3 linked regions of the Homo sapiens genome follow. The protein of the gene in region 1 interacts with the protein of each later gene in a pairwise test. Each region holds a gene or a part of one and is shown on either strand. Other genes may lie near its edges. The genes, in order: DCDC2, TRMT11 and CYTH4.

Region 1 (3,651 bases):
TGGGTACGATACAGGATTAGCAGACCTCCTAGAGACCACAATCTAACAGACAACTCTGATGTATATGTTAAAGCCTAATCAGAAGTCTAACAGGAACAAGCCTGCAGTCTGACAAAATCAGATGTGTGGACTTGGTGTAGCAAGTGCCAGCACTTAAAGAATCCATAAAATGACAGTGACAAAGAGGCAGGAGGGTTTGTAGGTTTGTAGGGTTTGGAATCTCATTGAAGGATTCTGAAGAGCTAAGGGAAACAGAGATCAGTTCTAGATTGGTTTCTGTTTTTAAGGTGAAATTAAAAGAATCAGGGATTAACCAGGGGTTGTATGAGATAAGAGAAGTTTATCCAATAAAGATCTCCGTAAAAGATGGGAATAGCAAAGCAAGTCTGAGAGCATCAGCAGTAAGAAAGCAGTCATCACTCAAAGAAGGGATCCTTGTGGCATTTTACAGCCCTGTGCCACCATGGGAGAAACAATGTTTCCTGTTAATTTTATAGTTGGCTTTAAATGTGTCTATCCTCTAAGCCTGGTTAATAGCAAAGCGACCTTTTCCTCTTTTCCATGCAAGCTGATTTTCACTCTTTCTGCTAGAGACTGATTTTGACTCTTACAGATATAATTATTAAATAATACCCTCTTAATCAAGTTGTAGAAAAAGACTTTCTCAAAACTTTGATCTAAGAGAAGCAGGCTAAAAAACAAAAGGGTCTATTATATTTTAAACCATTTCAAACTGGCTGACCCACAACCCTAATCCAATCTGCACTTCCTCAGTCCTCTGAGCACACCTCTAGCACAGCCACCTGCCACTAGATAATCATAGCTAGTTTACTTCTCTGTCTCTTCTCCTACACGCTGAACTCCCAAAGAGCAAGAGCAGTGAAGTATCCATTTTATGCCTAGTGCCTAGCACAGTTCCCAGCCCATCTAAGTGCTCCAAAGTCAAGCTGCCTGCTCTTCCCCTCTCTATATAACATGTACCAAAGCCCCTTACACAGTAAAACAGATTTGTACTCTAAATATCTATTTAAGAATGTCATTAATTCCACCTTGAATGGTTATGGAAAAAAAAGAATGTCATTATTTGAAGGATGTACTACATGGATGAGACATGAGGTGCAGGAATGAAGAGTGAGATCTACAATGCCAGGTCAAAGCAGAAGGACGCTTCCATTTGAAGGGTCCACAAATGGCTTTGCTGCAACATGATAAAGCCAGAAGCACTTGAACTAAATGGCTCAATGCAAACTATATTTACTAAATCGAATCACTTATGATGTAGTACTAGAGATGCTCATCTGTCTTTTCAGCAAGACTATAAATTCCTGGATGTGAGAGGTCATGCATGTCTTAATCATTTTGCTTACTCTGCCCACTGCATTGTATAGGCATTCAATAACATGGAAGCAGAGAGGACAAGGTAGGAAAACAAGAAGAGAGGAAGCAGAAATCACATTCAGTAAAGCAGAAGGGTAGGGGCAAGAGTAAGTGCTGGTAAAGGCATCACACATGCAGAATCAGAGGTCTCCAACTGCATGAGGACAGAGGACTCCCACAGGCTGCTTAAGGTAAAGAGGAAAGAAAGGAGCTGGTAAATCAACTTAGGACTTAGAAGATATAATGAGATGTGAAACTGGACTGAGAGGTGGGACACGAGGAAGCAAAGAGAGGATTGGGAAGTCATAAATACAAGGAGATGAGTTACCACGGTCAGAAGCTAAGAAAACTGTCTTCATTAAACCACCACTGACACAGGGAAAGTGGGAGGAAAAATGAAAATATAGCTATGCAAAATGACTCAGGAGCACAAAAAGAGTACAAGGGCAATCCAGGAGATCTGTTTATTTAGATATTAGTAAAAGCAGGACCTGGGTGTAGAGAGTCAGGGATAGGCTGCTCTGAGCCCATATGGTGCCCTGACTCTGAGGTGGGTGCAAACAACCACAGAGTCACCTTATTCCTCTTTCTTTTATTCTTCTGTTTCTTTATTCCCCCCCTCCACCCCATTACTTCCTGCTGTGCAAAGTGTTCACCAAATAGGACCCTATGCTTCTTTTGGGTTAGGTCCATTACAGTTCTGCCTTTCCCCAAACCCATCATGAGGCCATAAAGAGGAAGAGGAATAGCATTGGCTGTCCTTAAGTATCTCTTCAAAGATGAGCCTCATGGAACAAGCAAGCAGTGACACAAACCACAAAAGCATTTCCAATGTCAAGGTGACACGCACATTCTAGTTAGCATGACCTGAAGTCAATAAGCAGGTGCCATCTTGTCTAAATTATTAACTACGTAAAAGCAACAAATCGTACCCATGGTCTTGGGTGAGCTGCTCTGGAAAAGGAGAAGGAATAACTCCCAGCACTCACTGAAAGGGTGTCCCAGCCACAGTGGGTAGGACCCAGTGCCACACACTCTGCATGACTCCACTGAAATGCAAAGGTCTTTCCGTATAAAATGTACTCGGAATAATTAGAATTAGTATGTTTTAGGCAACCAGAAAAACTGAATTGTGTATACTGGGGTGGTGGCTTTTATTATGCAGGCCCATCACTGAAAACTCAAAATTACCTTAGATTTGAAGGAAATGCCCCCCATTTTGGTGAGTAAGTTATTTTACTCATCCCTCATAATGACACATTTTTGAATTTTTTTGTGCTACTACGGCACTGAAACTCCCCCTTGAAACAACTCTTAACCCTCCAATTTCATGAAGTATTCATGTTCTAAATCCACTTCAAAAATAATTCTCTATTGATCTCCCTTTATATATCATCATACTCCAAAGAATGCTCATCCTTAATAGCACTTAACAAGATGTGCAATCTTTTCTCAACACATTAATGTTGAAAGGAAATACCCACCTAAGATTTTTAAAGATCTATAATTTTTGTGAAATGCCAGTGTTCTACCAAGTCTGTTCTCAAATTTTGAGCATAGATCATCCTCCAACTTATCAACTTGTTGAACTCCAAAAGTTTGACTATAAATCAGTTGTGGGAAAGAGAAAGGTAGTTTCCCATACTAAAAATCACACAGTATAATTAGGTTCTCAGGGCAGCCTGCAAAACCCTTTTCCACTCGTGCTCTACCTAAAACAGCCGTAAAAATACCATAGAATTCAGAGTCAAAGTGATATTTCCAGAAGAAAAATGCTTTCATAGTTCCCTTTTGAGATGCCAAGAACCCAAAAACCTTTCTTTCTGGCAATGAAAGTAGGGGCTGCCTTTGCTTAAAGCAGACTTCGGAGGGTGAAGGTCATGGTGCGAACTTTGGGGAGGAAGGTATCTCCGGACTGGACATGTGAAGTGAGGGAAGTGAACACACTGCTTGTCCAGACCTGGAGGAAACTTTAGGACAGGAGGGCAGAGTGGGAGAGAGGACTCTAGCGAACAAGTGGGAAAGCTGGGCATGAGTGAGTGGAAGATGCGGGAAAGAGCATGGACAAGCAGTTTCTGAACACCTTTTCCCATCTCCTTTGCATTTCACAATTTCTTCTACTTCTCTCTTTCCATCTCCTTTAGAAGGGTTTATGGGTAAGGACTGAGAAGAAATAAAAGGCCACAGCAGGGCAGCAAGAGGAAAGGAGTAAGTGGGAGGGAGTCACCAGTAGGAAGCAGGATGAAAGAGATGCAGTCTTTCATTTGGAGACAA
Region 2 (3,651 bases), about 100 Mb from region 1:
TTCAAATTTAAACATTCCATCTTGTTCAAACGTCTTGTCTTTTACTGTTAATATATATAGCTTTATATTTAATAGTTACTGAATAACAAAACTCAAAGCAATAATGCTGAACATAATCAGGGCTTTAAATATATGCACAGCTCTTATTTTGGTCTTAGCTTTTGATTTATTGTACTTAAGATAATCATAATAGCCAATATATATTAAAGCTAGCATTAGAAGGTAGCAGAAGCGTGAATCCTTTAGCTAAGCTGTTGAAAATTACATCTATAGACTGGCAAAAGAGCTATAAAACAGCTGTGATCCATAGGTACTAAGCTAAGTGTAGGGTACAATAAGGGCTGGCAAAACTTTTTCTATAAAGGGCCAGAGAGTAAATATTTTAGATTTTGTGGGTCACATACTGTATGTTTCTGTCACACATTATTTTGTGTGGATATTTTTTAACAACACTTCAAAAATCTAAAAACTAGTCCTAGCTCAAGAACCTTATAAACACAGGCTGAGGACCATATCTGGCCCATAGGCCGTGGTTTGCCAACCCCTGATATAAAATAACAAGGTCAAAACAATTCAGTTGATGAAAAGAAGGAGGCTGAGTACAGTGGCTCACTCTTATAATCACAACACTTCAGGAGGCTGAGGCAGGTAGACTGCTTGAGCCTAGAAGTTTAAAACCAACCTGGGCAACATAGTGAGACTCCACCTCTACAAAAAATAAAAATAAAAAATAGCTGAGCATGGTGACGCATGCCTGTAGTCCCAGCTACTCAGGAGGTTGAGGTGGGAGGATCACTTGAGCCTGGGAGGTCAACGCTGCAGTGAGTCACGATTGCACTACTGCACTCCAGCCTGGGTGACAGAGCAAGACCTTGTCTCAAAAAACTAAATAAATAAAAAGACTATTTTATACACATTTGAAGGCAAACAAAGGCTATTACAAATTAAATATAAAGATGCACCAAATGCAAGAAGAGATAAAGAGAAAATTATACTAGATACGCAAACATTGTAAGAAAAATGAAATTAAAAATAAAATTAAGATTACATACTCTGGCGTATACACCGGTAACCAATAGACTAGTCTTCCACCTAAAACGAGGGTCTCAGCTGCGAAGTTTAACAGGTCAAGAAACATATCACTCAGATGATAACTCAAGGAAACAGGAACATGGCTTTCTGGACTACACAAAGAAAAGAAAATTTCAAAATCAGTGAAAAATTTTAAGAGTGCTAAGTTAACGGGGAAGCCACATGCCTCTTCTCAAGGTAGTAACACATCATATTTAAATTTCACTTACCATTTTTCCCATTTTTCTATCCCCTTTGGTATCTCCTTCTGTGAACCTGTTCTTCTTGTAGATTCTCTGATACCATATGGAGCTAGACAGAAAACAAAGGTAACACAGATAGTCAAAAGTCACCAAATCATGGATCAAGGGCAAACAGCCATGCTGCCTTCAAATGTGACACCCTGAGAAGAACACAACATCACCAATGCACAAATCCAACTGAAAATGTACAACATAAAGACTTGGGAGAGGAGCAACTGTCTTCTTAAAATATGTCAATGTCATAAAAGTCATTGAGAAAAGCTGTGGAAGTGTTACAAATTAAAGGAGGCCTAAAAGATATCATTACGAAATGCAATACCTGACTCTAGAGTAGATCCTGTCCTAGAGGGAGAATATATGCCATAAAAGCTATTACTGAGTCAGTTGACAAAACTGAATGGCAAACTGTAGATGAAAGTATTTTATCAATTTACTGAACTTGATAACTGTATTTTTGCTAAGAGACTATCTTTATTCTTAGTAAATACACACTGAAGTATAGGAGTAAAAGGCCACAATGTATACCACTTACTCTCAAGTTGATCGGAAAAAAAAAATGTATTTTATATAAGTAAACACAGAGTGGGAGAGCAAATAATAAAGCAAACTGTTAATTTAAAAAAAACTAAATTTTCATAAAGTATATTCACACTGAAACCATAAGGCCTTGATAATTTTTCTTTTGTTACATTACATTTGACAAAATCTAAGTTAGTAAAGAACTAAAGAGAGCTGAGATAGAAGGGCTGAACTTTGCCACTTTTTACAGATTTACTGTCAAATACTATAGAAAAGGCAGATCTATTCTTAGATAGGCTGCCTAAAAAACTCACGACCTCATGAGGCATGGGAAAATAAATTTTCATGCACATTCCTGAAGCTCAGTAGGTTCACAGGCCCAGTGGTTCCACAGAACCCCAAATTTCTTGTAATGCTAGAAAGGAGATGCCAGTGAAAACAGGCACTACAAAAACACAAATGCTTACACATAGAGAAATGTGTGATATCTGAAACTCTGTTCAAAATTTGACACCATAATTGCAAATGACATGTGAGCTCCAGTTGGTATAATAACCAATTATAGTCAATACAAAAACAAATACTAAATATATGCCTCAAAAAAATAAGCTGAAGGGAAAAACGGGTGACAAGTTAATATAAAAGGATATAACAGGGGATGGCAAGCCAATATATTTGTTTAAAAAAACAAAACAGTAAGCCCTTAACAAGGTAGTTAAGTACCTTCATAACTTTCTCCTTACAAGATGAAGAAGCTGGGGGTAGATGGGAGAAATACTGACAAGTTGGCATTTTGTGCATGTGTTGGTAAATTTTGTACTTTAAATGTAAATGATTTTACAAAACGAATCCTACTCCTACTTTTGTATAAAAATAAACTTACGATCAGTAATGATTGCATCAAAATATGTGCCCTTCCTCCAGGAAGGTTTAGATGCATCTGAAACCAGGACATCAAGGTAATACTTCTCTAAACCATATTGACGAAGATTGGCCCTAATGTTTTCATCTGGTCCTCTCCACTTCTGGTTTTTCCTAGTAGCCTTTCCTGAAGGGAAAGAAAAAGGAAGAGAGAAAGTATTAAACAGAGTATTCTTATTTTCTGTCATTTAGGAAAAGTAATGTTTTAACTCACTGAAACCTACATTTATTCAAAATTTGCTTTCATTTAAAATCTTAATTTTATGTATACAAGTAAATAGTTATTTTAATTTCAACATAACAGTAAAATGTACTGATGTCTAACTTATCTTGTTCTGTCAACTTCCAAGTAAAACTGCCTTAAAACACTCATTCGATATTTTCAAGTACGAAGATTTTTGTAGTAAGATAGAGTTGAAGAGAATATGGTTCCTTTCTTCCAGCAGTAAACAGTCCTGTGTAGAGATAGTATGAATCAGATAAATGAAACAGAAATGAAGAGAGCGAACTTGGGAAATGCCGCAGTTGTGACCATGAGGAAGGGAGGCAAAATGGAGACATTGCTAATGAAAGTTAAAGTGGGAGTGGAAGGAAGGCTAAAGAAGCTCGTAAGTTCCTTGTTTAGGAGACATGATAGTTTAGGATGATGACACCAGTGATTAATATCAGAGAAACCAGGAAGAAAAACAAGCTTAAGAAAAAAGATTAGATTCATTTAAGATATATCAATCTTGATGTACCTTGAGGTACCTGCAGAACTTTCAGAAAAAGATACGCAGTGGGGACATTCAGCAGGTAGTTGAAGGCCAGAATATACAGACTTTGGAGTTATCAGCATATAATCTTATACTGACTCCATAAGGCTGAATAACATTCT
Region 3 (3,651 bases), on another chromosome or scaffold:
TGATTAGAATGATTAAATATGGGCATGATAGAATTCTAACTAAGAAGGCAGTATTTGCTATTTGCAAGGAACTAGGCCCTTTCCCAGGCGGTCCAGCTCAGCTCTGTGAGGCAGTACTATCATGAAGTCATTCTTGTTCCTTGCCTCCTCTTCTTTGCTCCCAACCCTTTGTTTGTGCTGTCAGCTATGTGGATCGCGACACCCCCAGCCACTGGGGCTGTGCCACCCTTGAGGGCCGGGACCCTGCCCCAGGACTACTCACCTGAGGGCCTGGACGAGGTTGAGGTTGGCGAACTCGTGGCAGTCCACGAAGGCCTGGAGGACCTGCAGGTTGATGGGATCCCTGGGGGAGGAGGCGGAAGGGAGGGTGGGACACACTTGGATACTTGCTGGCACCCACCTCCTGGAGGGGGTTGAGGTGGGGGAGGGAGAGGACAGAGACATCTGTCCTTCTGGGGTCCAGCTGCCATCTGGTGTGTTCACATCTGTCCCACCCATATCACACCCTGAGGGCACACCCTTGTCCTCCCATGCAGGAACACACACCTTCACGGCTCACCAGCGCTGGTCTGGCCTGGGAGGGGAGCCCTGGCTTTGGAGCGGCCTTGCCCTCAGTCCAGGCCTTCCTCATTTCCTGTAACTTCCCACCTGGTGACCTCGCGGAAGCCACTTGACCTTCCCAGCCCCAGCTTCCTCATCTGTACAAGGGAGAGAAGCTGACCTCCCCCATCTCCTCCCTCTCCCCAGCTCCTGAAGCAGGAAGGTGCCCTTCTCACCGTCTGCATCCCCTGCTCACCGCGGGAGGGAGGGGTGTCCTTGGGAGCTGGGGAGAGGGCTGTTGACTCTCTGGTCCAGCTTCACCCCTATCCACTCGCCCACCCCTCAGACCAGTCCTTTGCCCAGAGCGCTCCCACAGATCCCCACCTCCTCGCCCACAATATCCTTCCTCTCTCCTCCCGTCCAGTCTAGATTCTTGAGCCTGTTTCTGACCCCAGGGCCTTTTTACTTGCTACTCCTGGACCGCTCCTCCCCCAGATGTCTGTACTGCTCATGCCCTCACCTCTTTTACGTTTTGGTCAAATGTCACCTTCTCCATGAGACCCTTCCTGTCCACGCTATTCTAAATCACAGCCCCCAACCTATGGTCCCCAGCATGTCTTTCTTTCTTTGTTTTCTTTTCTTTTCTTTTTTTTTTTGAGACGGAGTCTCGTTCTCAATCTGTTGCCCAGGCTGGAGTGCAATGGCGTGATCTTGGCTCACTACAACCTCCGACTCCCAGGCTCAAGCGATTCCCCTGCTTCAGCCTCCTGAGTAACTGGGACTACAGGCACCTGCCACCACATCCGGCTAATTTTTGTATTTTTAGTAGAGACGGGGTTTCACCACGTTGGCTAGGCTGATCTGGAACTCCTGACCTCGCGATCTGCCTGCCTCGGCCTCCCAAAGTGCTGGGATTACAGGCATGAGCCCCGAGCCTGGCCGGTCCCCAGCATTTCTGACTTCCCTTCCCTGCTCGATTTGTATTCCACAGAGCTTATCATTCTCTAACATATTTTACAACTATTGAGACCTGTCTCTCCCACTAGCATGGACTTCCTGAGGACAAGAGTTTTGTCTGTCTTATTCACTGGTGTACACCCAGGGCTTAGGATGGTGCCTGGAACACAGTAGACCCTGAGCAACATTTATTTGTTGAATAAATGACTAAATGAATGAAGGCAGTCAGGCTTTGACTCAGAATCTGGAGGGGATGATCCGTGAGCCCCTCAAGCACTAGGAGTGATGACTTTGCTAACATAATTCATCCTCTCACCTGCACATCCACACACCTGTACACACCTGCACACCTTCATTTCCTGCCTCGCTAAGGCTCCACTCGTTCTTACCTCTCCCCCAGGTAGGTACCAATGGCTGTCTTGTTGAGGCCCTCGCCTTTATACAGGAACCGTGCAATGTCCTGGACGTCAGGGGTCAGCAGCTTGTGCTCAATGAAATACTGGATACCCTGGAGGGGGTACACAGAAGCCGTGAGCAGCTGCTGCATGGAAGCAGGCCTGGGAGGGGGAAGGGAGGAAGGAGCTTCCATGGCCAGAATCCTGGAGCCTGGCATTCTGGTGTTGGCACAGTCTGTTCTGGGAAGTTTTGACCCCTCTTTCATAGGAGCTGCCTTTGGGAGGTGATGAGTTCCCCATCACTGGAGGCATGCAAAGAAAGTCAGCTTTCCTGCCATGAACCAGGTTCATGCCAGGTACTCCCCAGGGTCCCCCTCAGTCTGACATTCTTTGATTATATGCTTCAGTGACTCTAGGAATTTGTGATTCTGAGATTCAATGATTCAGCCATTTCTTTTGTTCCCCTAAAACTCATATTATTTAAAAATAGCGTTTCATTCTTTCACACAAGTAATCTATGTCTATTGTATAAAAGTTAGAAAAACCAGCTCAATCCAAAGGGGAGGAAATTGCCCGGGCCCTACCGCTCGGAGGCAGACAGCTTCCATCGTGGTGACCTTCCTTCCCTTTCTATGTGAAAATGGGCTCAGACCATGCCTGTCACATTTAAATCTGTTTTTCGGATTTGACAATATCACAAGCACCTCTCCTCACCACCAAGGCACTCAGAGTTTGTCATCCTAGTTTTAGGAGTTGGAGGGGTTGGTCTCTGGCTCTCCGTGAAGATTCCTCTGTGTTCCACTGCTGGAAGTTGGGCACAGGCCATGAGGGCCCAGTGACAGGCAGAGGATGCAGAGGACACCCCTGGGTGCTGGGTGGGGTGAGAGTGTGAGCCTGCGGGGGTCTCTGTGGGTAGGAGCAGGAGTCCAAGGGTCTGTAGCCATGAGAGGTGAATGGTTATAACACTTTGGGCCTGTGATGGGGACAGGGAGCCTTCTAAGCCAGAGCGGTAAATTTCCAGGGACCCCAGCTTGGTGCTCTCTGCTGGCCACCTGACCCCACCTCGGTGTGTCTGCCTGCGGTTTCCTTCTGTCTCCGTCCTTTCAGGATGGAAGCCCAGCTGCCACCTGGTGGGGTGAGGCCAGGGGCTTGGGAGTGGTGTGGGGGATCGAGGTAACCCAGCCCTGAGCTGCTGCTCCTACTAGCAGAGGGGTGGGTGGTGGGACCGCAGGACTGGCCCTCCCTGAGCCCAGGGCTGGAAGATGCTTCTGGAGCCTAAGCCCCAGATCCAAGAGCTCCACTGTCCCAAGCCACATTCATGGAGAAGGAAATGGAGGCCCAGAGTGGGGAAGGGACTAGGCCAAGTGCATGGACACCGTGGCCTCCTCCATGCTCCTGGCTCCTCCTGCCCCAAGGCGTGTATGCCTGGGAGTAGACAGGGCGCCCAGCCACAGCTGGCCATGGGGCACTGGACAAGATGCTCAGCTCTGCTGGGCACAGCTTCCTCCTCTGGAAAGGGGTCGTGTCAGCCGAGGGGAGCGAGAGGACACCAGGCAGGTGCTCCCATGCAGCCCCCACACCCTGTGGCCCGGGCCCTCCACAGCCACCTACCTTGGCGGGGTCCATGTTGAACTTCTTGCGCCCAATACACAGCTCCTTCTCCTTCTGGGCCATCCGGCTGTGGACATGAGGACGTCAGCTTGGGCTGCCCCAGGACCCTGAATTACCCTCTCCACTCCCCAAGGACCCTTGCCTCAGC

Evidence for each region.
Region 2: the proteins of DCDC2 (region 1) and TRMT11 interact in binary tests that used the Homo sapiens proteins (3 or more experiments, as listed by UniProt).
Region 3: the proteins of DCDC2 (region 1) and CYTH4 interact in binary tests that used the Homo sapiens proteins (3 or more experiments, as listed by UniProt).

What each region holds. Positions count from the first base shown.
Region 1 is NC_000006.12:24,347,993-24,351,643, forward strand, and holds part of DCDC2 (doublecortin domain-containing protein 2), read right to left. Parts: intron 1-3,651. UniProt on the Homo sapiens protein: Protein that plays a role in the inhibition of canonical Wnt signaling pathway. May be involved in neuronal migration during development of the cerebral neocortex. Involved in the control of ciliogenesis and ciliary length.
Region 2 is NC_000006.12:126,010,503-126,014,153, reverse strand, and holds part of TRMT11 (tRNA (guanine(10)-N(2))-methyltransferase TRMT11), read right to left. Parts: exon of another isoform or gene 3,515-3,651; intron 3,230-3,514; exon of another isoform or gene 2,963-3,229; coding exon of another isoform or gene 2,902-2,962; coding exon 2,737-2,901; intron 1,384-2,736; coding exon 1,302-1,383; intron 1,185-1,301; coding exon 1,053-1,184; intron 1-1,052. UniProt on the Homo sapiens protein: Catalytic subunit of the TRMT11-TRM112 methyltransferase complex, that specifically mediates the S-adenosyl-L-methionine-dependent N(2)-methylation of guanosine nucleotide at position 10 (m2G10) in tRNAs.
Region 3 is NC_000022.11:37,295,918-37,299,568, reverse strand, and holds part of CYTH4 (cytohesin-4), read right to left. Parts: intron 3,571-3,651; coding exon 3,504-3,570; intron 2,006-3,503; coding exon 1,887-2,005; intron 344-1,886; coding exon 263-343; intron 1-262. UniProt on the Homo sapiens protein: Promotes guanine-nucleotide exchange on ARF1 and ARF5. Promotes the activation of ARF factors through replacement of GDP with GTP.